3 separate regions of the Homo sapiens genome follow, and all the other regions are linked to region 2. Evidence: fine-mapped QTL for protein levels in blood plasma. A gene starts in region 2. Each other region holds a variant in brackets. All regions are shown on one strand. Distances are between the middles of the regions.

The links. PIP is the posterior inclusion probability: the model's chance that the variant is causal. The UK Biobank Pharma Proteomics Project read protein levels with antibody pairs (Olink). The fine-mapping took linkage between variants from a reference panel, not from the people measured, so its PIPs are less certain.
Region 1: its variant is fine-mapped to the plasma level of the PEPD protein (UK Biobank, PIP above 0.99).
Region 3: its variant is fine-mapped to the plasma level of the PEPD protein (UK Biobank, PIP above 0.99).

What each region holds. Positions count from the first base shown.
Region 1 is chr19:33,405,222-33,413,367 of GRCh38, reverse strand. PEPD (peptidase D) reads left to right here. Exons shown (of 15, transcript NM_000285.4): 11 at 1,619-1,696. It overlaps LOC124904692 (a long non-coding RNA gene), which reads right to left. Exons shown (of 2, transcript XR_007067229.1): 2 at 4,403-8,146. Among named protein-coding and RNA genes, the nearest start is that of CEBPG, 36 kb to the right of the region's middle. RefSeq lists an enhancer at 6,111-6,668. The variant C/T (reference allele first, on the strand shown) is at 606.
Region 2 is chr19:33,517,108-33,525,281 of GRCh38, reverse strand. PEPD (peptidase D) reads left to right here and starts at 3,491. Exons shown (of 15, transcript NM_000285.4): 1 at 3,491-3,538. The coding sequence starts at 3,522. It overlaps LOC105372370 (a long non-coding RNA gene), which reads right to left and starts at 3,348. Exons shown (of 3, transcript XR_935918.3): 1 at 3,268-3,348; 2 at 1,786-1,861. RefSeq lists enhancers at 2,264-3,226, 3,227-4,190 and a silencer at 3,282-3,481.
Region 3 is chr19:33,485,562-33,493,735 of GRCh38, reverse strand. It overlaps PEPD (peptidase D), which reads left to right. Exons shown (of 15, transcript NM_000285.4): 5 at 399-446; 6 at 3,679-3,740. Among named protein-coding and RNA genes, the nearest start is that of PEPD, 32 kb to the left of the region's middle. RefSeq lists enhancers at 5,064-5,923, 5,924-6,783, 6,784-7,644. The variant A/G (reference allele first, on the strand shown) is at 5,022.

The DNA.
Region 1 (8,146 bases), 110 kb after region 2:
TGAAGGAGGGAGCATGGCCTGCCCACTGCAGAGGGGCTGCTTGGCGTCCCCTCCCTCCTGTCCCCAGCTGGTCAGCACAGCAGCTAAGCACAGGAAGGCCACTCCTCCACACGGGCACACACACAGCATGTGGGGACCGGGCTGTGAGCTCAGGCTGGGCAGCTTCTGTGTGCAGCAGGGGTGGAGTGTGGAAGGGTCAGTGCAGAAAGTGGTGGTGGTGTGTCTATGTGGGTGTGGCTGCGTGGGGACCAGTGCTGCTGTATGTGGGTGTGCATGTCACTGTTGGTGTGCCTGCTCGTGGCACATGGTGCCGAGGGGCAGGGCTCTGTGTGGGTGTGTGCGCTTGGGTGTGTGCCATCAACACCTGGCTGGGTGTGCTTGGAGGCACACACATGGTAGAAATGACAGTGATATGGGATCATTGCCATGCTGTGTGGGCCATGCACAGCGGCATGTGTCCCTTGGGGTGTGTCTGCCCCCACATGCGTCCTGGCTGTGGGCGTGGCCCCCTCGTCTCCTGCGCTCTCCCAGCCAGTCTCCCTGCTCTCTGCCCCTCGGGTCTGGCCCCTGCCCGGCCAGGATGGAGCCAGGCAGCTCTGCCAATG[C/T]GCACGTCCCCGGCACATGAATAATACATGTGAAATCTCAGTCCTTGGAAATGTTCTTCTCTGGTGGATGGAGAGAAAACCATTATTTCTACTTTTATGATTCCCAAGACTCCTGAGCAGGGCCATAAATATTACACCCAGGTGGGGGTTTCCTTCCCCCCTTTGGACAGACTTAAAAGTCCTTTTTTTCTTAAAGGCATCGCTCATTAGGGAAGCCTTCTCAGGCAGAGGAGCGAGGATCCTCTTGGTTTCCTCTCTCTCCAGCCTGGTCAGGACGCCAGGGCAGCTCCAGGACAGCCGGGGCCCTTTCCATAGAGGCCCTCTCCCCTTTGGCCACCAGGAAAGGAGGGGTTCCGTAGGGCCCTTCTCCAGGCCCAGGAACTGCTGTTCCCCTTTTTTGCTCTTTTTTTAATTTAAAGACAGGGTCTCCCTCTTTTGCCCAGGCTGGAGTGCGGTGGCATGATCATAGCTCATTGCAGTCTCCACTTCCCAGGCTCAGGTGATCCTCCTAGCTCAGCCTCCTGAGTAACTGGGATTACAGCTGTGAGCCACCTAACCCAGCTAATTTTTTTTGCATTTTCTGTAGAGGTAGGGTTTCGCCATGTTGCCCAGGCTGGTCTCGAACTTGTGGGCTCAAGTGATCTGCCTTTCTTGGCCTCCCAAAGTGCTGGCATGACAGGCGTGAGCCACCACACCCGGCCCATTGCTAAGTTTTACATGTGTTCCACATGATGCCCACATCCCAGCCCAGAGGGCAGCCGCCTAACGACGCCTTCAGCCAGGAGGCTCTGCCTGCAGACTGAGGCTGGTTGCCAGCCATGTGACTGCGGGGTGACAGGGCCACCATGTCCCCCGGCCTTACCTCTGGCTGTGGACCTGGTCCAGCCACGCCTGGGCCTGTGCTGGAGGTGGGGACAGTGCTGCTCATGGGCAGGGGATCGAGCATCCACCCCCTCCTTCAGAGCCTGCTGCAGAAGAATGGGCTTTGATCACCCTCCCCCGGCTCTTTGCAGTGGTGAGAACTCAGCCGTGCTACACTACGGACACGCCGGAGCTCCCAACGACCGAACGATCCAGAATGGGGATATGTGGTAAGTAGGGCCAGCGGCCCTGGCTCTGTGTGTGAACAGCCAGGCCAAGGTTGGACTCAACTTCAAGATGGCCCAGAAGCCTCTGGGTCCCTGTCCTGAGAGGGCTGACCACAGCAAGTCCCTGGGCTTCTTGGCCCAGACTTCTCTGCCAAGGCTATCGGCCTGCGTGGTGCCTTCTCCAGGGCCAAAAGCCTGCACCCCCCAGGGAGCACTGAGAGAGAGGGTGCAGGAGAGGGGCCCCCGATGGTTTCCTGTGGGCCATGGGATTGTGGGCTCTCTGAGGGGGCCTGAACCATCCCCAGCCTCTGTCCAGGCTGTCCTCTCCGTTCAGGGGGCACCACGCTCGCATCTTTCTGTCTTGGTGCCAGGAGGGCAGGCCTCTTGGTCTGGAGCTGGGAAGACCGCAGGGAGCCTCCCACGCTCTGAAACCTGCCATCCTCCTGCTGCAGGAGCCCGTGGCCTCTGCGGCCCTGCGTTCAGCAAGTCAGCAGTGCTGACCCGTGGCTGCGTGCAGGGCTTTCCTGAGCACGATGTGCCGTGCTCACAGTTCTTCATAGAAGCCACGACAAGGAGATGTGGGCAGGCCCTGCGGCCTCCGCCCCTCGGGTAGTCTTTTCTCTCATTGGAGGACTTGCAGTCCTACCCACAGCCCCTCGGTGTGCAGGGCAGAGCAGCTGGGCCGCTGCCCCGGGGCAGGGAGGAGGTGTGTGAGTACTTGCAGCCTGGCCTCTGCTCAGTCCCTCCGCGTTCTTTGCCTGTGCCCTGCACGTCAGATGTCAGCCAGGGCCAGCCCAGGCAGTGCAGAGCTCCTGAGAGCTACCCCAGTGCTGGAGCCCTGGGGCTCAGCCACAGCCACGCAGGCCCTGTCTTGGCCTCCAGACATTTCACTGTGGTCACTGACTAGCAGAGGATGTGCCTTGTCCCTCCCAGTTCTTTGGTGCCCTTTCTTCTATGGCAGATGCACCCGAACAAGCCTCCTGCAGAGCCCTCTGCCCCCCAGCAGCATGGCATGTCCTCTGAGGCCTGCGTGGCGCCCAGCTGGGCTGCCTCCGCCTTCCCATCGAGGAGCCACCCCAATGTGCCAGCTCCTCCAGCGGGAGTTCCCATGATGGCTGCTCACCGGCCTGGACCCCGCCTCACCCTACAGCAGGTAGTCGTGGGAGCCCACCCCCCAGAGTCCCCAGCCATGCCCACTGAAGGACAGGAACACACATGCCCAGACCTATGGACAGACAACCAGCTGCCCAGAGAGCTGCCGAGCGTTGAGCTGTCAGGGCCGAGTATTTGCAGGAACACACTCAGTCTCGGGGTCCTCCCTGCCCTTGGGCACATGGCCTACTGAGACTGCCCGGGCTCCCCGCTCACCCAGGTCCATAGCTGATGAGCTGTTCCAGCTCAGGCCATGCTGGCAGGAGCTCAGCTCAGACCTTGGGTGGGGCCAGCATATGCCGCCACAGTAGGGCTGTGTTAGGAACACGGCAGGTTGAGGGTGCAAGCGGAGGCAGGCCAGTGGAACCGCCACCCACTGCGCGCTGGGCCTTAGTGGACTCCCTGGCCTACCCGACAGCACTGGCTCCACGGATCCTGGTTCACTCTGGCACCACAGTGAGCCCCACAAATGGTGGGCGAGTCCCCAGTCCCCCCTGCGTAGCCACCGTGCTCGGGGCTGGGAGGGTCAGAGCGGAGCTCAGCTTTCCTCCTACATGCCTGGGGCCACAAGGTGACTGGGCCCTTCTTCTGGGTCTCTGTGGATTTTCTCACCCACTCCTCGCCCTGATCCTGCGATGTAGGCACCTCACCCCATGTGTGGGCCAAGGAACTCAGACACAAGGAGGGCACCAGGCCCAGGTGTGAGGCCAGAGGCACTTGGGGAAAGAATTGGCAAACTCAGACTTGGCTCAGCAGGGGACTAGAGCAGGAGAGGGGGTGGCAGCCCTGCCCCCACACCGTGGACCCACCAGTGGCTCCAGACACCACCTGGTGTCCTGAAACTTTTTAAGAGACGGTCTTGCTCTGTCTCCCAGGCTAGAGTGCAGTGGCACAATCATAGCTCACTGCAGCCTCAAACTCCTAGGCTTAAGAGATCCTCCCACCTCAGCCTCCCGAGTAGCTGAGACTACAGGTACAAGCCACCATGCCCAGCTAATTTTTTTATTTTTAATATTAAAAAGACAGGGTCTCACCATGTTGCCCAGGCTGGTCTGGAATTCCTGGACTTAAGTGATCCTCTTGCCTCGGCCTCCCAAAAGTGCTGGGATTACAGATGTGAGCCACGGTGCCCAGCCCTGAAACCTTTTCTAAAGCTCTTTAACCCTGTAGCGCATTCTGGCTGGGCCTGGAGGACAGGACATGGGAACCCAGTCTCACGGCAGAGGCCACATCAGTGGGTCCCCACAGTCCAGGGGGCACTTCTGGGTGGCTGGAGAGCCCTGTGCCAGAGCCACGTGGCCATGAGCTTTTCTCCTCTGTGGGCTCAGCACACCCCAGAAGAAGTGACTGCTCCTTTATGACCCTCTTTATCTGCCCCGGAGAGGGTCCTGGCATAATCCCAGATGCTGTGGCCTCGGCCCTCCGGGACAGCACATGGCACCTGCATCTCCCAGCTGCAGCTGTAGAGGCAGGAGTGATCCGAGGATGTTAATGCCAAGTCCAAATTGGTGATTTGATTTTTCTAGTGCTAACTTTGAAATGTAGCCAGTAGAGTAATTATGAGTTTATTGTAGTCAATTTATTATGCAGCATTTAGAACAACATGTTTTGTTGATTACTGCTACTGCCAGATTGCTGGTGGCATTTATAGTCCATTGTTGTATTGAAATTGATCTGCCGAGCGCCTACTGCGTTCGGTAAATAATAAATCAGTCTGTTATCCCAACATGAAAGCCACGATGCTTCATCCTAAGGTATGAAACTAAAGCATGAGCCCAGCGTAGAATTCCCCCGAAGCCGAGCGCCTCCCAGAGCAGTGCGCCTGCTGCAATGGCCTGCTCTGGGTTTTAGTCCTTTGACTGGGGGAAGACACCCCAGAGATATTTTAGCTTCTAGGAATGGGATTTTGTGGGGAATCAGAGCTGGTCCAGGGCAGCCAGATTATACAGCTGTACTGCAGAAGGGTGGGGGGTACTAAGAGGAGGCCAGCCTTTTCCATCCCTCTCTCCACAGTCCCAGATATGAGCACTCCCCCAACACGCACACACATGGATACACACACAGGGAACTGACCGAGGCTGTGCTGCGTTGCAATGATCACAGTGTAAGCCCCTGCCTCCCTCTCTCGCAGTGGCCACCTGGCACAGCGTGGGCCCTCTTCGGGCAAGAGCAGCAGGCCCGGTGTCCTCACCGAGCTGGGCAGGCCAGGCCCTGATGCCCACTTCCAGCAGCTGGTTCTGCAGCACAGGCTGGAGGTGGGAGCCACAGGCAGAGCTCAGGCCAGGCCTGGTTTATTCTCAGACAGCTCCCGTCCCCTGGTTGTCCTGTTCCGTGTCTTCGACCCAAAAGTGTCCTCCATGATGCGTACATCAAGCGGGGTTTGGGGCTGGCTAGGCCCCCCTCCTACTGCTCCGTCCTTACCCTTCCAGCAGCTTCCCTGGAGCTAGGCTGAGTCCACTGTTGGCCACAGTCATGGTCCAAGAGGGCCTATGAACCAGACACCCTGGTTCCTGCTTCAGGTCAGGCTTGTCAGCCAAGGACTGAGACAGACTTCCTGAGGGCCGTCCCTCACCCCCAGCCAGCCACCCCCGGGCCCCTTCCCGCTTCTCTGGGTGTGATGCCACCACACCCACTCGCATGCACGCAGGGGTGAGGGACGGGACTTTGTGGTGGCTGCATACACCCTCAGCCTGGTTCAGAGCCAAGCGGCCCCATGTGGGGCCTGTAGCCGTCAAGCCTCCGGGGGTTTTGCTGTTGTTCTCAGAGTCTTTTCCCGCTGTGATCCTGGGGTTCGCCATGAACCCCATCTCCAAGTCACTGTACCAGAGGGGCCATTCGCTGCTTTTTTTGTTTTCCTTTTTAAACCCCTCAGGCAGACCTTCAAGAACAGGGTTACAAAAGCGCAGCACACTTGCTAATTAACACTTTCAACATGTTCACACAGATTGAGGTGCCTGAGATCACTGGAGGCCATTCCTAAGTGGGAGGCCCCAGAAGACCCCTCCCCACTCACTCCAGCCCCGAACAGGTTTGTGTGAGCACAGAGGTGGCCAGGACTCATCCCCCTGCTTCTCCTGGTCGTCTTCTGAGCCCCCATGTGCTGCCCCCTCCTTCCACAAACAGCCTGGGCTGTGGGCACCAGAGCCACTGCAGGCCAGCAAGCTTCGCAGCTAGGGCAGGGGGCGCATGGTCCACGATTCTGGGAAGCAGTGCGCCCAGAGAGGGACCATCCCTTGCAGCACTCCGGGCCTGAGGCCGCCCCAGGTCCTGGAGAGGCTCACCCCACAGGGCAGAGGTGGAGGGCTCTGGTTGGGAAAGCAGCTGGGACACTCCTCCTGCCTCCCTCACTTCCCGATCAGGTGGTGGGGGTTGGAGGGGGGCCTTAATCTACTGTGGCCCCTCGCAGAGTTTCTAGAGCACGTGTCCCAGGATGCCCCAGGCCTTGGTTGTCCCAGTCGGGATGCAGCTGGTGGGCAGCAAGCCTGTCCTTCCAGAACTGGCCAGAAGAGGGCAGTGTTGTCTCAGGACGATGGGCCAGGCCTCACCCCTGCTGGGCCTGGTCTTTTGTGTTGCTCCTGGGCATGGGGGGTGGGTGGCCAGCCTGGCTAGGAGGAGAGACCTGTCCCAGCCCTCACACTCAGCAGCCACCAGTGCCCTCTTCCCCTCCTTCCCTGGCTAGATAATGGCGAGACCTCGACCCTGCAGGCCATGGGGTGCCCGCTCACCCAGGACCTCAGCAGCCACCTTGGCCTCACATGGGCCCTGCAGCCTGGGATGCGGCCAGCCTACTCCTGCTGTCTACTCAGCCTGAGTCTGTCTGCCACCATCGCGCTGCGGACCCCATGGGTGACAAGCTCCTGGGGACCCCCTTGCCCCACTCCACCTGGGGCCCAATGCTTTGGTGAGCTCCAGGGTAGAGCGTTGCCCCCAGGCCTGCTCTCTGCTGCCTGTCCCAGCCCAGCTCTCCCCCACCACCTTGCTGTTTCCTCCGAGGGAGACTTGTTGTCACCAGCCAGCCCTGCCCTGAGCACTCTGCGGTCTTAAAGACATGCTCTTGGGGCCACAGAACGCCCTCAGGAGGGTCCAGACCCACAGGCATGGCCGTCCCATCCCATCCCAGTTAGGAGCGTGCTCTCCATTCTCACCCGTCCTCATACACATGGACAGGCCTGGTTATGAGCAGACACCTGCCCACGCGTTTTCGGTTTGTCTCTTGTTTGTGCTTCGTGGCTGCACCCTCCTCAGCTGATGTCATGACCCACAGTTTGAACAGCACTTGTCCAGACATCCTGGGTGCTCCCAGACATCATGAGACACTGGTCACCAAAAAAAGCAAAATACAGCATGTGCTGCGCGTGTGACTCTCCCTCCCGCCTGCCAAGGCCACTGCCCTGACGCCCGGGCCTCACCCCACTGTGCTTTCCTGGCAGCTGTCCTTGTGTCTCACCCACCTCTGGACGAGGCACCCCACAGTGCTCTTCTGGGACCCGGGGCCCCTCACTGGTGCCGTGCCTCTGTCCATGTCATGCATAAAATGGCAATGCCAGTTCCCTCCAGACACCCAGGAGGCCCACAGGACGCAGCTGCTCCCGTCACCCACCGCGTGCACCAGGGATTGCTGGCTCTGGGGACCAGAAGCTGCTGCTGTCATGGGCTGGCGGCATGGGCAGCTTTCCTGTCTGCCGAGGCCCTGGAGGAGTGGCCGTCACACGAAAAGGGGGCAGAGATGCCCAGGAACGCACTGGAGAGAGGTCCCCTTGGTGGGTTAGGCCATGGCACGGGGAGCCTCAGGGACTCCGAGTGGTGGCCTTTGTCCCTGCTGGCCACGCTTGGAGCTTGGCACTCCACGGAAGGCCTGGCTGGGAGCAGGCAGCCGGCCCATGCACCCTGGAGACCACAGCTCGCCACCGTGTCTGCAGGGGCCGCCCACTGGGGCAGATGAAGGGAAGAGTGACCCATACGCCTCCCTTTCGGTCTCACACTGAGGAGAAGCAAGTGCTTCCTGCTGCTCAGCAATCCCCCAGCCTGGCCTGGGACACTGACCAGGGCAGCTGCACATCGGAGTCTGCAGTGCTTCTGCAGCCCCGAATATGAGCGCGTGTAAACTGTTGGATTGAACAGCTAAGAGCCGTGCCACTACTCAGGAGATTCAAATGAAACTGCAAACCAAGTCCAAAGTGGCTCTCATATAAACATTGCAGCATTTCCCCCAGAAAACTGTTCCCAAGCCTTCCGTCACTGGCCGACCCATCTTGGAGGCCTTCTGCCTCTGGGCTGGCGGGTCCCTGCCATGGGGCCCAG
Region 2 (8,174 bases):
GGCCTTTGGAGTGGGAGAGCTGTGGCTACCTCTGCAGGCCCTGCAAAGGCCCAAGGCTGGGATCTGCCAGAACCAGGATAGAGAGACGGTCTCCTGGGCATTCCACACCCATCACGCTCCTTGCTTTCCCACTTGGGAAGACACTGGGTTGCCATATGCCACCCTGCCCCTATCTCACACCCACAGTCCCCTCTATTCTTCCTCTTCTGTTTATTTGGTGCTGGCTTTCTGCATCCAGTCTTCTATTCTCAGCAAAAGCAAACAATCGCAAAACACCCAAATGCCATCTTGTGTAGGGCTTTGACCATCTGAGGCTGGCGGCCCCGTGCAGTGGCTTTATTGGCTCTTATTGGCTCTTTTCAGTTCTCTCTGCTAATCCTCCTGAGCTCCTGCTGGAGAGAGGGGTTTGGATCGGCAGCTTGCAGCTCAGAATCCCCCAGGATCTCCCCATTAGCCAAAAGCAGAACCCTCGAAGCCCCGTTCTGAGGCCCTCCCAGATGGTGGACTCCCCAGGGACAGTGTGGAGGGCTCCTCTACCTCTGTCCCCAGACCAAAGATCCTCTAGGCAAGGGCAGGGTCTGGATCCCTGGCCCTCACAGCATGGCCAGTCCTGGAGTGGCACTGTGGGCAACAACTGGGTGGTGCAGGGCAGAACCAGCATCCAGGCTACCTCCAGTGCAGTCCCACAGAGCCTCTGGTAGACCAGTGCCCTCAATCCACAGCAGAAGATGGACAGGGCTCTTCCCGGGGACCTCCCCTTCATGGCCCAAGGGTGGCTCATGAGTCAGAGCCTAGCAGGCCGCCACATCTGGGCCTGCCGTCTCCAGGCAGCCAGCTGTCAGCAGCGTCCACGGAGTTGCAAGAGTGGGGGCTAGATTGTGGGGAATGGGTGGAGGAGGGAAACCTGGCTGGACACAGTGTCCCGGGACACAAGAGGTGTCTTCCCAGGGTGAAGCTTCTTTTGCAAGGCCTGACGGGAGTTGGGGGGGCCCTTCTGGAGAATAATGCTATGCTGGCTACCGGGCTACCAGGCTGACCGAGTGCAGACATCTACCAGCCACCTGCAGGGCTTGACGAGAGGAGACTGTTTCGGCCACAAGGGCCTGTGACCTCGGAGGCAATGCCGCATGAGAGTGCTGCCTGGCGCGCTGCCTTGGCTGATTTACACACTCCCACTTCGACTCTCTAAAATCAATCTTCCCCCAATTGCCTCCTGGCTCCAGCAACGTCCTGGGTCTGCCCTGCATAAGTAACTAAATGGTCTTCTCCCATATTCTGGGCGGCTTCTGGAGCCCCTGCCACAGCCTCTGATGGGGAGGGGTGAGGGGTGAGGGGCAGCCCTGCCGGAGCCCCTGATGGGGAGGGGAGAGGGCAGGGGACCTGGGTGGGCAGGGGTCATGGGCAGTGCCTCCATATTACTGTCCACAAACAAGGGAGCTCCACTCAGTTGGTGGGTGCCTTCCTTCCATTATTTTGTGTTTGGGATATTGACTTCTTTTTCATATTAGTAAGCACTCAGAGCTGGCAGCTGGCTTAATTTTGACATATTTTATGTCAAAAGAAATGGTGGGAGGCAGGTGCAATGAATGAGCTGGGGGGTATGTTTTCCTTCCTTGAAGGCGCATGGAAAGCTCATTCTGCTCACCCTTTGTTATTATGTATTTTTTAAAGCGCCACTTACTAGGGAGTTGAGTTTCTTAAGCTGAAGGCGGACCTACTGCTTAACTAGGGGTGTTAGAAGTTCTCAGGGGCCCCTAGGCCAGGCAGTGGGGTGTGAATCCTTACCTCTGTTCTTCTTCCTGGAAACTGGCAAGAGGGTGGAGAGAGCTCCTCTTGGACCTTGCCTGGAGGTCAGGGACCCCTGCAAATTGTCCATGTGTTGTGGGAAGGGGTAGAAGGGATGAGGCCCCCCCTCTTCCATTAGCTCTCGTTTTCCTTATCTGGGACCGGGAGGTGGGAGGGGCTGTCTGGAGGGGCCACATTCCTCCTGGCAGCTTTGGTCTCTGGCTGTGCCTGCAGGTTTGAGTGTAAAACCCTCTAGCAGCCCTGTGAGGTGGCCCCATTAGCTCTCTCCTGACAGATGAGGACAGCAGGGATGGTACTGGGCTTCCAGGTAACTGTGCCACGTGCCCTTCACTACCCTGCTTATGGCTGGCTCCCTTGCTCCTATTTAAGGGGCCTATTCTCCTCCCTGCTTCATGGGGACAAACAGAAGCTGCTTCTCCAGTCATAGCCCCTGGCTCCCACCAGCCTGGCCATGGTGACCCACATCCTTGTTTCGATAAAGAAACAAGAAGCATCCCCCAACCCACAACCTTTGATCAGAAGCCACTTCCAGCTGTGGGACAGCTGCAGGGTGGGGTCAGGAGCCCCACACGCCTATCCTGGGCCACCCATCCACCTGTCCACACACATCTGTACACCACACACATCTGTACACCCTTGGCGCCAGGGACGCCCTCCCCCAACAGTGTGGGGCCCCCTTCCTTCACAGGGGCAGTGAGGTCACTCCTCAGGGTATGGCTTCATGAGCTCAGCCTCTGTGTGAGCACTCTCTGGCCTCAGTTTCCTCATCTGTATAATAGACTTAAAGATAGTCTCGACCTCATAGGGCTGTGGTGAGGTTTCTATGAGCTCACATGTGCAACGCATTTGGGCCGTGCTTGTAATGCCCTGACTCTGTTGGCAGTAGGGAGGGCAGCGTCTGCTGCAGGGTCCCTACACCTTCTCTGCAGGACTCTGCACCCAGTACCAGTGCCCAGTGGGGCAGAGGAGTAAGCCTTCTGGCAGACTCTCCCTCCTAAACCCTTCTCGGCTGTGCCCACTTCTCGCCTGCCCTCCTCCCTGGCTTCCCTTCCTCCAGCTTCTCCATTCTGCAGCCCAGGAAACCTAGAAAAGATCCTACCAGACTTAACTCATAGGCCCCACAGTGGAGGCCCCGCAGGGTCTGGCCCTTGCTTCCCTTAGGCTGCCCCTCTCTCGCGCACATTCTCCTGGACGCTGCACATTTAGAGTCCTCCAGTTGCCCCACGGCCTTTGCTCAAGCCCTTTCCCTTCTTAAACAAAAATCGCCACCTCTGCCCCGACCCTAGCCTGGGTCAGTCTCCCTCCTCTCCTCCCACGTGGTTTCTTTATTCCTATGTGTTCTTCTCCCGGGTGGGCTGGTACGCCAGATCGGGGACTGAACCAGAATCAAGATGTCCTCTGCTTCAGGACCTCCCTCCCACCACGAAAAGGCTGCAGATGCTGCCCGCTAACCCGACCTACTGTCTGCAGCCGGCAGCCCGCTCATTTATCCTGGCCGAGCTCTTGGGCCCCCAATCTCCGGGAGCCCCGCCCCATCGGGGCTCCGCCCTTCCCCAGGTACCGCCCCTTCCCGTCCCGTGGAATTTGGCTCTGGAGGAGGTGGGTCAAGGACTCCATGCCCCGCCCCCTGCCCCGCCCTTACCCCGCCCCATGCATTGGCACCCGGAGGGGCTCAGCTGACGCCGCACTTCACGTGACGCCGGTGCCGGGCGAACATGGCGGCGGCCACCGGGTGAGTGCTGCGCCTCCCTCGCTCTTTCCCGCTGGCGTGGAGAGGGGCATGGGTGTCCCGGCCGGACCGCGGGTGAGAGCGTCAGCCGGGGTCGCTGAATGCCGCGGGTAGGCGCCTCTTCCCGTTGGCCCGGAGTCCCAGCGCCGGTCGGCGAGCTGCACGCTCCGAGTCAGGGTCAGCGCGGGGGCCGCAGCTCCTCTCCACCCTCCTGGCTGGCTCCGGCCCCACCTGCCCGCGTCTGGCGGCCCCACCGTGTGCGGCTGCGGTGGGGGCTGGGGTCGACACGCATGTTCGCTGCCAAGACCCCCGGGTAGGAGGGCGGCGTTGCGAGGACCCCAGGGACCCGGGCGCTTCCCGGAGGAGGCGGTATTCGAGACGGACTTGGAATTCCCTTTTCCCAGCAGGGCACTTCCCCATTTCTTTCAGGGGCCAAATGTCACCCCCTCAGGGAATCCTTCTCTAACCATCTATCCCACTTTTTGTGCCCTCATCATCACCTGATAAACTATATAGAGCATTGTTTGTACTTGTTCTTTATCTTCTCTGCATTTAGAGTGCAAGGGCAGGTATGTTACCTGCTTCTCAGTAGCCCGGTGCCTTGCACACAGTAGGTGCTCCATACTGGGCTAAATGAAAGAAAGCTGAGTGGTCGTAGTGGGAGGAAGGGTGGACAGATGGGTTCACCAGAGCGTTGGGCGGAATCTCCCAGATAGGGAGCATCTGAGCCCAGGGTAAGGGACAAAGGTTGAGAGTTCAGAGTGTTCTGGGGACAGGGGTGCATGCCTGGGGCTGGTTGGAAGGTGTGGTGTTCCAGGTGGCGGCTTCAGACTTTGCCCTGATGGGCTGGAAGGGTTTTGTTACAAGCTGCTTGATCTGTTTTTTAAAGATTAGGCTCCCCTGAGCTATGTGTGAGTTCAATGGGAGAAGGTGTGGGTCTGGTGGTACAGTGGGGTAGAGGGGGCATGGTGTAGGAGGGAGCAGTATTCCAGATGCCAGGTTGGAAACTGAGGTCAGAATGGGGGATCTAGTGGACTGAATGCATCTCTCTTTTTAAGATACAGGGAAAATGGCAACAGAAAGTGGGTTCTAAGTTGGCCCCCAAGGTTGAGGGAGCTTAGAGCATACAAATCAAATATTTTGTGGGCACCTGCTATATTCCAGGAATAGCAGTGGGTCTTCCCTTAAGGTACTCACAGGCCACTGGAACAGATGGACACATGGGACTCTGTCATCCATCTGCTTGCCGTGTGGTCTTGCCATTTGCAAAGGAGGGGCATGGACTCTGAGCTCAGATAAAGTGTGGGAAGGCTTCACTTCCTGGGTGACTTTTGTGCTAGTCCTTCAGCAATGAGACTCCCTTCAGGTAGAGAACAGTGCAGACAAAGTCTCAGATGGGTGTCAAGGAACTCAGGGTCAGATCCTTGAATCCAGCCTGTGACCCTTTTAAAGGGTAGACTGAGCAGGCTGGTGCCCAGCTGTGGGTGTGCTGTCTCTCTGGTTAGGCTGGCTCGGTGCTCACAGGGAGTGCCAGGGGTTGCATTTGGGTTCAGGATTCCAAGCTGGCCTGAGACCTGCTGCTCTCCTGAAGGAACCAAGCTGATGTCTGGACGGGAGCAAGTCTGGAACTGACTGGATCCTGGAATGAGAGCTTTTCTTTTTCTCTTTCTTTTTTTTTTTTTGAGACGTAGTTTTGCTCTTGTTGCCCAGTCTGGAGTGCAATGGCATGATGGCTCACTGCAACCTCCACCTCCCAGGTTCAAGCGAGTCTTCTGCCTCAGCCTCCTGAGTAGCTGGAATTACAGGCGTGTGCCACCACACTCAGCTAATTTTTTGTATTTTTAGTGGAGATGGGGTTTCACCATGTTGGCCAGACTGGTCTCGAACTCCTGACCTCAGGTGATCCACCCGCCTCCGCCTCCCAAAGTGCTAGGATTACAGGTGTGAGCCACCACGCCTGGCCCCAGAATGAGAGCTTTTCTAGCAGAACCGATTCTCTGGGCCACCACACAGGGTGGGTGAGGGAGGCAAAACAGAGTGGCAGGTCTTAGAGAGGTCTGCTATTGAGAGGGTGTGGGAGCTTCCAGAGCCTGGCAGTCTCCTTGGGAAGAGCCATCCCAGTCTGGTATGGGGCTTTCCCATGTACTTTGAGCCTGAGGTTGACCCCAGTGGCTTCCTTTAGAGCAGAATGATTAAGTGTGTTTCCCGCAAAGCTCAGCTCCTAGCCACACTCACAGAACAGATCATAGAGTCAGGCATAACGAGGCATGATGCCAGCAAGTCACGGCCATTGCCGTGGGCTCACTGGGAGTTGGGTTTGGTTGTCTGTAGAATCCTACCAGAGCCTGGGACAGAGGGGGTCCATGAGAGTTCCAGGTGACTGGGGTGTGCCCCATATGATTTGGGGAGTAGGGGAAGCCCTAAACTAGCATCTCAGATTTAATTTGAAACTCAAGAATCTACTCTGAATGCATCTCTCTTTTTAAGATGTGGGGTGTTTCAGGGTTGATCCTACTTTCTCTTGCTAGCCTGGGTGTAGGCTTCAGGTTGAGACAGAGTGCGCTGAGGTCACCTCCCATCCCCTCATGGAGAGGGGTCCCTATCCCATGGCACTTGGTGGCACTGCTGCTGTCTCCTTAAGCAATGCTTTGAGCTTTCCACAGACAGGATTGATAATTTGAAATCTGTCAGCTCCAGCCAGACCTGTCTGCATCTGCTCTCCCACATGGCTTTTTCCATTCCCTTCTTCCCTTGCACACTCACCCAACTAGCCCTGGAATGTTCTTGTCCTCTATATGATTCTTCACGTATTTGCAGGCCCAGCTCAGATGGTTCCCTTTCCCAGAAGCCTTTCCCAGCCCTCGGGTAAAGGTTTAGTGCTCAGAACTCCAGAACACTCAGTTTTCTCCCCAGCAGTACACTTTTACACGTCTGCCCATTGTGGGTTAGGAGTTGCTTCCCTTCATGCCTCTCCTAGCATCCTTAGAACCCCTGGGGTTCTTTTGTATCCGCAGGGCCAGTCTGTGGCTGCCCTGTGATTGGTGCTTGGTGAAATGAATGAAAAGGGGATTTACTCTAAATTAGTCCAGCATCCCATCCTGCTTTCCTGGGAGACTCCCAGTGATTGAGGGAAGGAGTCATGGTGGGGAATGGGGACAGAATTCCGAGGGGTAGGATGAAGAAATAGCCTTAATTCTTTAACTGAGTGGCTCCCAGGAGCTGTTGCAGAGCCAAAAAGAGGCAAAGGTGAACTGCCCTGGACGTGTACCCCTGTTGAGCCGTAGGTTACACTGGAGTCAGCATTCTTCTGGAGAGTCTTCTGCAGAATTCACATTCTGGGTCAAGAGCCCAACCCCACAATGTGAACCTTGTGCTCCAGGAGCAGAAGACTCAGGCCGACTGGGGGCTAGGGACGGGTGGGCCTATGGGAGGCAGGCTGGCCACTGAGTATCCCTGTGCCTTCCCTGGCTCTTCCCCAGGTCCTGACTCCACACAGCTGTCTCTTGGTTTCTGTGTATGCTTGGCACCCCTATCCGCCCCAGGAGACAGAGGTGCAAGGTGGAGGTTGCTGGCCAGTTGCCTCGAGGTCCTGTTCCGCCGTGGCAACCCTCTCCAGCCTGGCGCTTACGGTCTGGTGCCCAGTGGGCTGCCTGAGCATCTGTCTGGTGCCTGGCCCCACGCTGGAGGCTGAGGGGAGGAGGTGGCTGGTCCTTGGCTGGCCTCTCCTACTGGGAACTTAGCGGTGTGACCCTGTCTAGAAGTGGCTCCACATTTCATTTTTTTTTTTTTTTTGAGAGGGAGTCTCACACTGGAGTGCAATGGCGCGATCTCGGCTCACTGCAACCTCCGCCTCCCGGGTTCAAGTGGTTCTCCTGCCTCAGCCTCCCGAGTAGCTGGGATTACAGGTGCCCACTACCATGCCTGGCTAATTTTTTTGTATTTTTAATAGGGATGGGGTTTCATTATGTTGGCCAGGCTGGTCTCAAACTCCTGACCTCGTGACCCACCCACTTCAGCCTCCCCAAGTGCTGGTATTACAGGCGTGAGCCACCGCACCTGGCCAGTGGCTCCACATTCTAGTGCAGAGATCTTTCCTTGTCTGTGCGGTAGACCCCACGGGCATCAGTGAAACCTACGTACCATTCTCGGCATCAGGTTTTTTTTTGTTTTTTGTTTTTTGTTTTTTTTGAAACGGAGTCTTGCTCTTTCACCCAGGCTGGAGTGCGGTGGCTTGATCTTGGCTCACTGCAACCTCCGCCTCCCAGATTCAAGTGATTTTCCTGCCTCAGCCTCCCGAGTGGCTGGGATTATAGGTGTGTGCCACTATGCCCAGCTAATTTTTGTATTTTTAGTAGACACAGGGGCTCACCATGTTGGCCAGGTGGTATCGAACTCCTGACCTCAGGTGATCTGCCCATGTCGGCCTCCTAAAATGTTGGGATTATAGGCATGAGCCACCACACCTGGCTGGCATAATGTTTTTAAATGTATGAAATAAGTACATAATATTACAAAAGTAAAACCCAATTATATGGAAATACAGGTATCAAAATGTTACATAAATTTGAGACAGGGTCTCGCCCTGTCCCCCAGGCTGGAGTGTAGTGTTGCGATCTCAGCTCACTGTAGTCTCCGCCTC
Region 3 (8,174 bases), 32 kb after region 2:
CCAGAGGCTGGTAGGCCTGGAGCCTAAAGGGTTCCCGGGGGACGGGTCTTTGAGCAGGGACTTTGCAGATGGGCAGAGGGGCTGGCCTTGGAGGGTGGGTAGGGCTGGCTGCTTGGAGCCAGGGATCTGTGTGGTGCCTGGAAGCAGGGCGGTGCGGTGGGAAGCGAGCCAGGTGTAGGTTTATCCTCTCTGCCCCTCGATGGCTGTGTGGCTTTCAGAAGTCCTTCAACCAGGGGAAGCTGGGTTTCTTCACCTGCAGGGTGAGGGCAGCGCCCACGTCGCCTGTTCTAATGATCTGCTTGATAAATGTGCACTGTCATTATGAAGGAATGGTGGCATGTCATCTTCATTAGGCTTAGTGGTGCCTCTAAAGTGGGTTTTTCTTTCCGACCTTCTAGATTGCCAGCGTCCTGACGTCACAGAAGCCCTCTGTCCTCCTCACTTTGGTAAGTGGCTGGTGTCCAGGGGTGGGGCAGTGCTTGGCTCTGGGGAGGGTTTTTATGGGGGCCACCTCTCCTGCAGAGGTCGGGCCCATAGGGGAGGATTAAAAAACGGAGAGGGGTTGGGTCCAGGGGCTCACGCCTGTTATCCAAGTGCCTTGAGAGGCAAGGTGGGAGGATCGCTTGGAGCCAGGAGTTCCAGGCCAGCCTGGGCAACATGGCAAGACCCTGTCTTTACAACAAATTAAAAAGTTAGCCAGGCCTGGTGGCATGTGCTTGTGGTCCCAGCTACTTGGGAGGCTGAGGTGGGAGGCGTGCTTGAGCCCAGGAGTTTGAGGCTGCAGTGAGGTATGATCGCGCCACTGTGCTCCAGTCTGGGCCACAGACAGGACCCTGTCTCAAAAAAAGAAAAAAATAAACCAAGAGGAATGGTCATCAGTGATAAGTAGCGATACCTGCTCAGTCTGAATAGCTGTTTATGGGACCCCATCCTTGAGTCTCCCTGGGACCTGCTGTGTCCTGTCGTGAGGATGTGGGCCTGGCGCCACACCCACTCCTAAGGTTAAACCTGGCTAGAAGATGTATTTGTGTCAGGCTGAGCTCCTGGAATTTGTGGATGTAGAAAGTCAGTTTAATGGGTACCAAAATATAGCTAGGTAGAACAAATCAGATCTGGTATTTGATAGCACAACAGGGTGACTACAGTCAACAATAATTTATTGTACATTTAAAAATAACCAGAAGAGTGCAATTGGATTGTAACAGAAAGGATAAATGCTTGAGGTGATGGATAGCTCATGTATCCTGATGTGATTATTCCACATTGCATACCTGTATCAGAATATTTCAGGTACCCCATAAATGTATACACCTAATATCTACCCATGAAAACTAAAAATAAAAAATTTAAAAAGGAAAAAAGAAAGTTTATTCCCACCCTCTGTCTCCCCTGTTAAAGGGGTCTGAAAACCACACCACCGGGCGTCTGCCCTCAAGGTAGCAGGGGTGTGGGGCGCAGTGACTGACCGAGGGCCTGGGCTAGGGTGGGGGGTGCGAGGTGGGCTCTGGGTACGCCGGCAGGGTTTTGGGGGCACTTGAGCTGTGGTGTGCCCCCAAAGAATTCTCTGGAATTTCTCAGAGAAGTGTGCTTTCTTACACTTCTTTGAGCTTGGGAGTTTCATATAAGAGGCATGTCCACAAGCCTTCCCCCCAAAGTGACCCTTCCCTCTTGTCTTTTTTTTTTTTTTTTTTTGAAATGGAATATAAAAAGTAAAGTAGAGGTTTCTCTTCAAAGACTTTCCTCCCCGTCTAATTAGAAATAAACAGTAACTTCTCTTAGAAGCAAAATTTATTCAAAGACCTGTGCTAACATTCTTAAATATCTGCTAGCTGTAATAAAGAAATCAATATACTTTATGTTTTTAGCTCCCACAATTTAACCTAAATATTTGCCCTGATGTGCTTATACTGGTCCAAGCAAACATAAGGTCATAGCCTGTTCCTCTTCCTTATTTAAAAGTGTTTTTACCTTTCTCAGCATTCCACAAGTTACTTCCTCCTTCCTTTCTCCCCCTCTACCTTTGCCTCTTTTAAAAAGTTCTAAGTTGCTAGCCAATCGGGACAAATACAGAATGTGGGGTCCCGTTCCAGGCAGTGGAAACCGGACACAGCAGTAGGGTGGACACGCCAGGTTATAAACGACCCTGTCTCCTTTGTTTGGTGAACTCTCGTGGCAAAACTGCTGGAGAGTGTACCCTTTCTGCAGGAAGTGAAAATGGCCTTACTAAATAAATTAAATTTATGTTCAAGTGCTATTTCTTTATGGCACTGAAGAACAAACATTTCAAACATGGAGTTTTGCTCTTGTTGCCCGGCTAGAGTGCAGTGGAGCGATCTTGGCTCACCGCAGCCTCCACCTCCCGGGTTCAAGCAATTCTCCTGCCTCAGCCTCCTGAGTAGCTGGGATTACAGGCATGCACCACCACACCCAGCTAATATTGTGTTTTTTGTTAGAGACGGGGTTTCGCCATGTTGATCAGTCTCAAACTCCCAACCTCAGGTGATCTGCCCACCTCGGCCTCCCAAAGTGCTGGGATTACAGGCGTGAGCCACCGTGCCCAGCCTTTCTCTTTTCTTAATTGATTTTTACCAAAATAGTTATTTCCTTTAGCACTTGGCCCCTTTTTTTTGCTTTACTGTCTTGATGGCTATAAGGGAAACTTATGTGAGATGATTATGGTCATAGATGATCCAATGTGTTCAATTTAGATATACAATTAGACATCAAGCTGAAGTTCTGGGTAAAGAAATGGTGATTTAAAATGCCTTGCCCAGGCTGGGCATAGTGGCTCATGCCTGTAATCCCAGCACTTTGGAAGGCCGAGGTACGCGGATCACTTGAGGTCAAGAGTTCGAGACAAGCCTGGCCAACGTGGCAAAACCATGTCTCTACTAAAAATATAAAATTAGCTGGGCATGGTGGTGCGCACCTGTAATCCCAGCTACTCGAGAGGCTGAAGCAGGAGAATCACTTGAACTTGGGAGGTGGAGGCTGAGGTGAGCCGAGATGGTGCCACCACACTCCAGCCTGGGTGACAGAGCAAGACACTGTCTCAAAAAAAAATAAGTAAAATAAATGAAATAAAATGCCTTGCCTTTCTGGAGAGGGCCCATTTTTCTCCAAGTCCCTTGTTTTGTCTCCATTCCTGTCCAAGTCCCATTTGGAGTCTCCTTGGAGTTAAGAGAGGGATGTCTCCCTGCTTCACAGCAGTCCTGCCACAGTCAGGTCCTGCACACCTCCCCAGAAGGGCTGGGTTCGACAGGACTCTTTCGGATGTTATACAGTTAGTGGGGAGTGTGTGCAGGAGAGGGAAGATGGACCAGGCTGGGGAGAGCAGATTTATATTGGGAGTGGTCCCGGGTCCTCGCCTGTGCCTGGGCAGCCTGGCTGGTTTCAGCAGAGTGCTCTGACCTCCATGGAGAAGGCCTTGCTGTGCAGCTGGGATGCTGCAGAGTTTGGGGGGCCCCCACTTCCTCCACTTGGCAAGTGGTAGCAAAGAGGTCTGTCCTTGTGTTGGGGCCGGGCCTGGAGCTACCTGGCTGGGTGGCTCATCTGTTGGGGGAAGGCAGGAGGGGATCCTGTTCTTACCTGTCCTGAGCCTAGCTGGAGGCCTCAGGGGTGCAGGCTGTGGGGGCGCCATGCGGCCCCGTGTGTCATGTCTGTGTTCTCTCTCCCCAGCGTGGCGTCAACACGGACAGCGGCAGTGTCTGCAGGGAGGCCTCCTTTGACGGCATCAGCAAGTGAGTCCTGGGCCCCCAGGGACTCTTTCCCCACCATCCCCCACTCCCACCTTCACTAGCAGGTCTTTCCCGGTCTACAAATAAGACATGAACTATGCAAACTTCTTTTTAAGGAGTTTGGGCATTTTGAGGAAATGTTTAGAAGCATAATTTGCCAAAAATCACCTTGATTTTTCTTGAAGGAAAGGTGCCCCGTGTCTGTTTGCTCCATAAGGAAAGTGCTCAGGCAGCCCTGGCCAGGGCAGGGGCAGGGGCAAGGGCAGGGGCAGGCACAGGTGGGTTGTTTTCCCTCTAAACATCTGCTGTGAGCCCCTGTGGTCTGTGCATCAAGCCACCACCCCCTTTCTTTTATTTTTTTATTTTTTTTGAGATGGAGTCTTGCTCTGTCACCCAGGCTGGAGTGCAATGGCCCGATCTTGGCTCACTGCAACCTCCATCTCCCGGATTCAAGTGATTCTCCTGCCTCAGCCTCCTGAGTAGCTGGGATTACAGGCACCCGCCACTACACCCGGCTAATTTTTGTATTTTCAGTAGAGATGGGGTTTTGCCATGTTGGCCAGGCTTGTCTCGAACTCGTGACCTCAGGTCATCCACCCACCTCAGCTTCCCACACTGCTGGGATTACAGATGTGAGACACCGTGCCTGTCCCAAGCCCCCTCTCTTAGTCCCAGCCATTAACCCCTTCCAACCCGGCTCTCAGCAGCTCCCCTGTGTCCCCTGCTGTCCTAATCCCAGGCAGGATCCCTTTAACCTCTTCTCACTCTTAACCAAGCGCCAGGCTGAGCCTCCAAACCCTGCTTGGGAAGCGGTTCCCCTTTTCTCTCCAGGCAGGAGGACAGACCTTGGGCACAGGGAAAGACGCCCCTCCCCTGCTTGTCACCCCTCACCCACAGCCCCCGGGAGAGCCTGGAGAGGGCGGGAGAGCCCTGCCCACTGGATGTGCTTGGGTCCCTGGACTGGCTGGTGACTGGCCCTGGGGGTCTGTGGCCTGCATTGCTGGCTGATGCCATAGCAGACAAGGCCCCTGCGCTCGAGGCTGCTGCACGTGGACAGTGGGCAGCTCCCAGCCCCAACTTTGGGACCTGGATCCCCAGCCCCTCCCCTATCATGCATCCCCTACAGCCCCCATGTCTTCTGTTGTCCTCTGGTGGACCAAGGCAGTGATGGAGGAACCGCCTTATAATTATGTATGAGCCCAAGCTGCTGGAATCTCTGTGTGTGATGTAGGGGTGATGAGGGATTATGAGCTCATGAATATGTATCACCTCCCACCTCCCCCT[A/G]TGCTAAGAGCAGTGGGGCGGGTGGAGGGGCGGGTAGTAGGTTTGCTTTTTCACTGCACAGATCTTCGTGTCCTCCTGGGAGTTTCCCCAAAGCGGCCCCGCCTCCCACGCCTGGCAGCAATTAGCCCAGCTTGTTGAAATGCTGGCCATGGAGCTGCTCTCTCTCCCCAGGCCCCCAGGCCCTCAGAGGGGCTACGGGCACAGCCAGCTGCTGCCTGTCCCAGTCCCGGGACTCCCTGAATCCCCCCAGCACTACCTGGTGCTGGGTCTCCAGTGTCCTGCACACCTTTCCTCGACCATGCCATGGAACCTCTCTATGGCCTCTGTTTGGGTCTCTGCAGCAGGGGGACCCTCAGCTCCTCCACGTGTAACCTGGTGCTGCCTGGGCTTGTGGTGGGCACTGGAGGAGATCATGCTCACCTGGAGCCTGGCACAGAGCTGGTGCTCAGTGACAGTTGCCCGCATGCAAACCCCAGCAAATCCCATTGCTCCTCTGTGCCTCAGTCTCCCCATCTGCGTGGTGGGCCAGGTGGGCTCCAGGATCACCAATTCCCAGTTTCCCAGATGTCAGTGAGTCGAGGGCCTTCTCAGCGGTGAGAGCTTTGCTTGCTCCTCCTCTAGAGAGAATGCTGAGCCCCCCTGGACCACGTCTGGCAGCTGTGTGGTGGGTGTGGTTCCCAGCCAGGAGCTCAAGATGTGGCCTCTGAAGCAGAGCTCTGCCAGCTGCTCCTTGAGGTTCCCCGAGGAAGGCAGGTGGGGCCCTGGGCTTCCCCAGGGCCCTCATCACTGTCAGTGAGTGTCAGGAAGCAAAGGTCTCGTTCTACCCCCCAGGAGGATTCCTAGGTGTGACCTCTCATCCCAGTCTCTGTCACCTGTTGCCCCCCAGTCCCTGTGGCCTCTGCCAAGAGCCCAGAGGAGCCTGTGCTCTGCAAACTCCCCACCCCACCCTGTCACCACTGGGACACTTTTTGGAGAGCCAGGGACTGCCTTACTTTTGCACCATCTCCCCAGGCACCGGGCTGGTACCTCTCCAATCTCTGATCCAGGCCAGGCTGGGGCTGACTGGGGGGTGCTCACCCGGCCCCTCAGCTGGGGGCTGGGCTGAGACACTGCCCCCCACCCCGGGTGCTGGTGCGTCAGTTTCCGCACCTACGCCTTGGGCTGCTGGCCGAGTCTCTGACTTGGCTGTTGCAATGCGCAGCGGGTGAGAACCCTCGTGGCCATCTCTGGCCTGCTTGTTCTCCTCCCTCCCTTCCTTGTCCCCTGCAGGGGGCCATCCACCCATGTCTCTCCCCTCGGGGCCTTCCACCTCACTGCCACCAGGGCTGTTTCACTGAGGCAGGAGCTCTGGCTGGTGCCCCCTACCCTGCATGCCGTGGGCCTTGACATGGGGCCCCAGCCTTTGCCTCCAGCTGCTCCCAGCCGCTTCCCTGTGGACAGTCTTGTCTGCATTCCTGGGGTCCAGGTGCAGCTCATCCCCCTGCCTTCCACTCACCCAGGCTGCCAGCACTTTTGTGCCGGGCTGGGCAGAGACCACGTCCCCAAGAGCCGCTGCCGCTCAGCAACCGCATTCCCCTGCCTGCCGGGTGCACCTCCAGCTGCTAGCTGGGATATTAATAGCCTGTTTCCCAAGCAAGATGAATCTTGCTGTCGTCCTCCTCTCCAATACGCAGCTGCTTCCGCCCCAGTTGCCTCTCACTGCTCTGATGAAGCTGCTTGTTCCCGGCATTGTCCTTTTTGACCCTTTTAAATGTCTCTGCAGCACCTTGCACCTTGGGCTTCGATTGACCTCCTCCTCTAACAGAAGTTCAGGTTTGGCCTCTTGGTTTGACCTGATGGGCCCCCCCAGCTCCCCTTATCCCCTGGCCTGCAGGGAAGAGGAGCTTGTGGTAGACAGTGGTCCCCACCTGTCCACCCAGCCTATACCCTTGGGACCCTGGTCCAGCTGGATGGTTGGGCCAGGACCCCTCCAGGTGTGGCTACTCGGGGTGCCTGGCCTGGGGTCTGTCCCATTTGGGCTCAGCCTTGGTCTCAGACCTCCCTCCACCTCCCCAGATCAGGGCCAGGCCGCCTGCTGCCTGCAGTAAGAGTGTGTGGGGTCTCGAGGTGTGGGGACAGCAGAGGACAAGGAGCAGAGGGGACAGGGCAGAGGTGGGCTGAGGGTGGTGGGCATGCACACGGCCAGAGAGACCCTGTGGACTGAGGCCCCTGGGCTCACCCAGTGATGTGGCTCGGTGTGATGACAGTAGCGTGAAGGGTGTAGGCCGGGATGGTCTGTAGGGGCTTGTGAGTTTGGGGTCCGGCCCAGGCAGCAGTTCCGTGTGTGGCTTGATTGGAGCAGTCCCAAGGAAGATTTGGGAAGAGCAGGCTTTGCTGCGGGCTCTGGCAGGAGGGGTGGGTGTGGGCATGGGGTCGGGTGCTCATTGCCAGGTCCTGGCGGGGGCATGATGGGGGGTTGGTTTGGGGGCTAGTGGGGGCTGAGATGGGGAGGGGAACCCTGCAGCAAGAGACTTGAGACTTCTTCCTGCGGATGGCAAGATAGGCTCCCTGGAACACTTGGCTCCTGAAGGCTGGGAGCAAAGTCAGACATGGTAGATCTCTGAAAACATCTAAGGAGGTAGACGTTAGGGCAGGTTTTCCTGAGAGCAGGAGACTGACCATGAAGGAGAGATGGTCTGTTGGGGGATTGTTGGCAGGGGCTGGGTGGCCTGAGCTGAGGGATGCCTGTCCATCAAGTTTCCATGCCTTAACGAGGGTGCCTTCTTGGCACAAGGCAGTCGCCTCCCAGACAGACAGAAGCTGTACCCAGGAGCCCTGGGCCGGGGCAGCGAGTGACAGGGGCTCCGTTTCCTGCCATTGTATATGGTCAGTATTTTACATTTCTTACATCAGTGTAAGAAATACACTTATTCAGGCTAAGTGTATTTCTTATCTTTCGGCATTTACTTAGATCACCCTGCATATTTGAAGACAATTGGTAACGAATTGATTCCATTTAAGCAAGCAGTTAAAGATGAAATTCTGAATTTGGGGGTTGTTAATGCAGGAATATTAATATCCGAAGATGTGAATTTTAAAACCCAGGAAGTAGAGGGACATTATTAAAACTTGACGATTACAGCAAAATACCAATCTGTGGTTTGAGGACCGTGG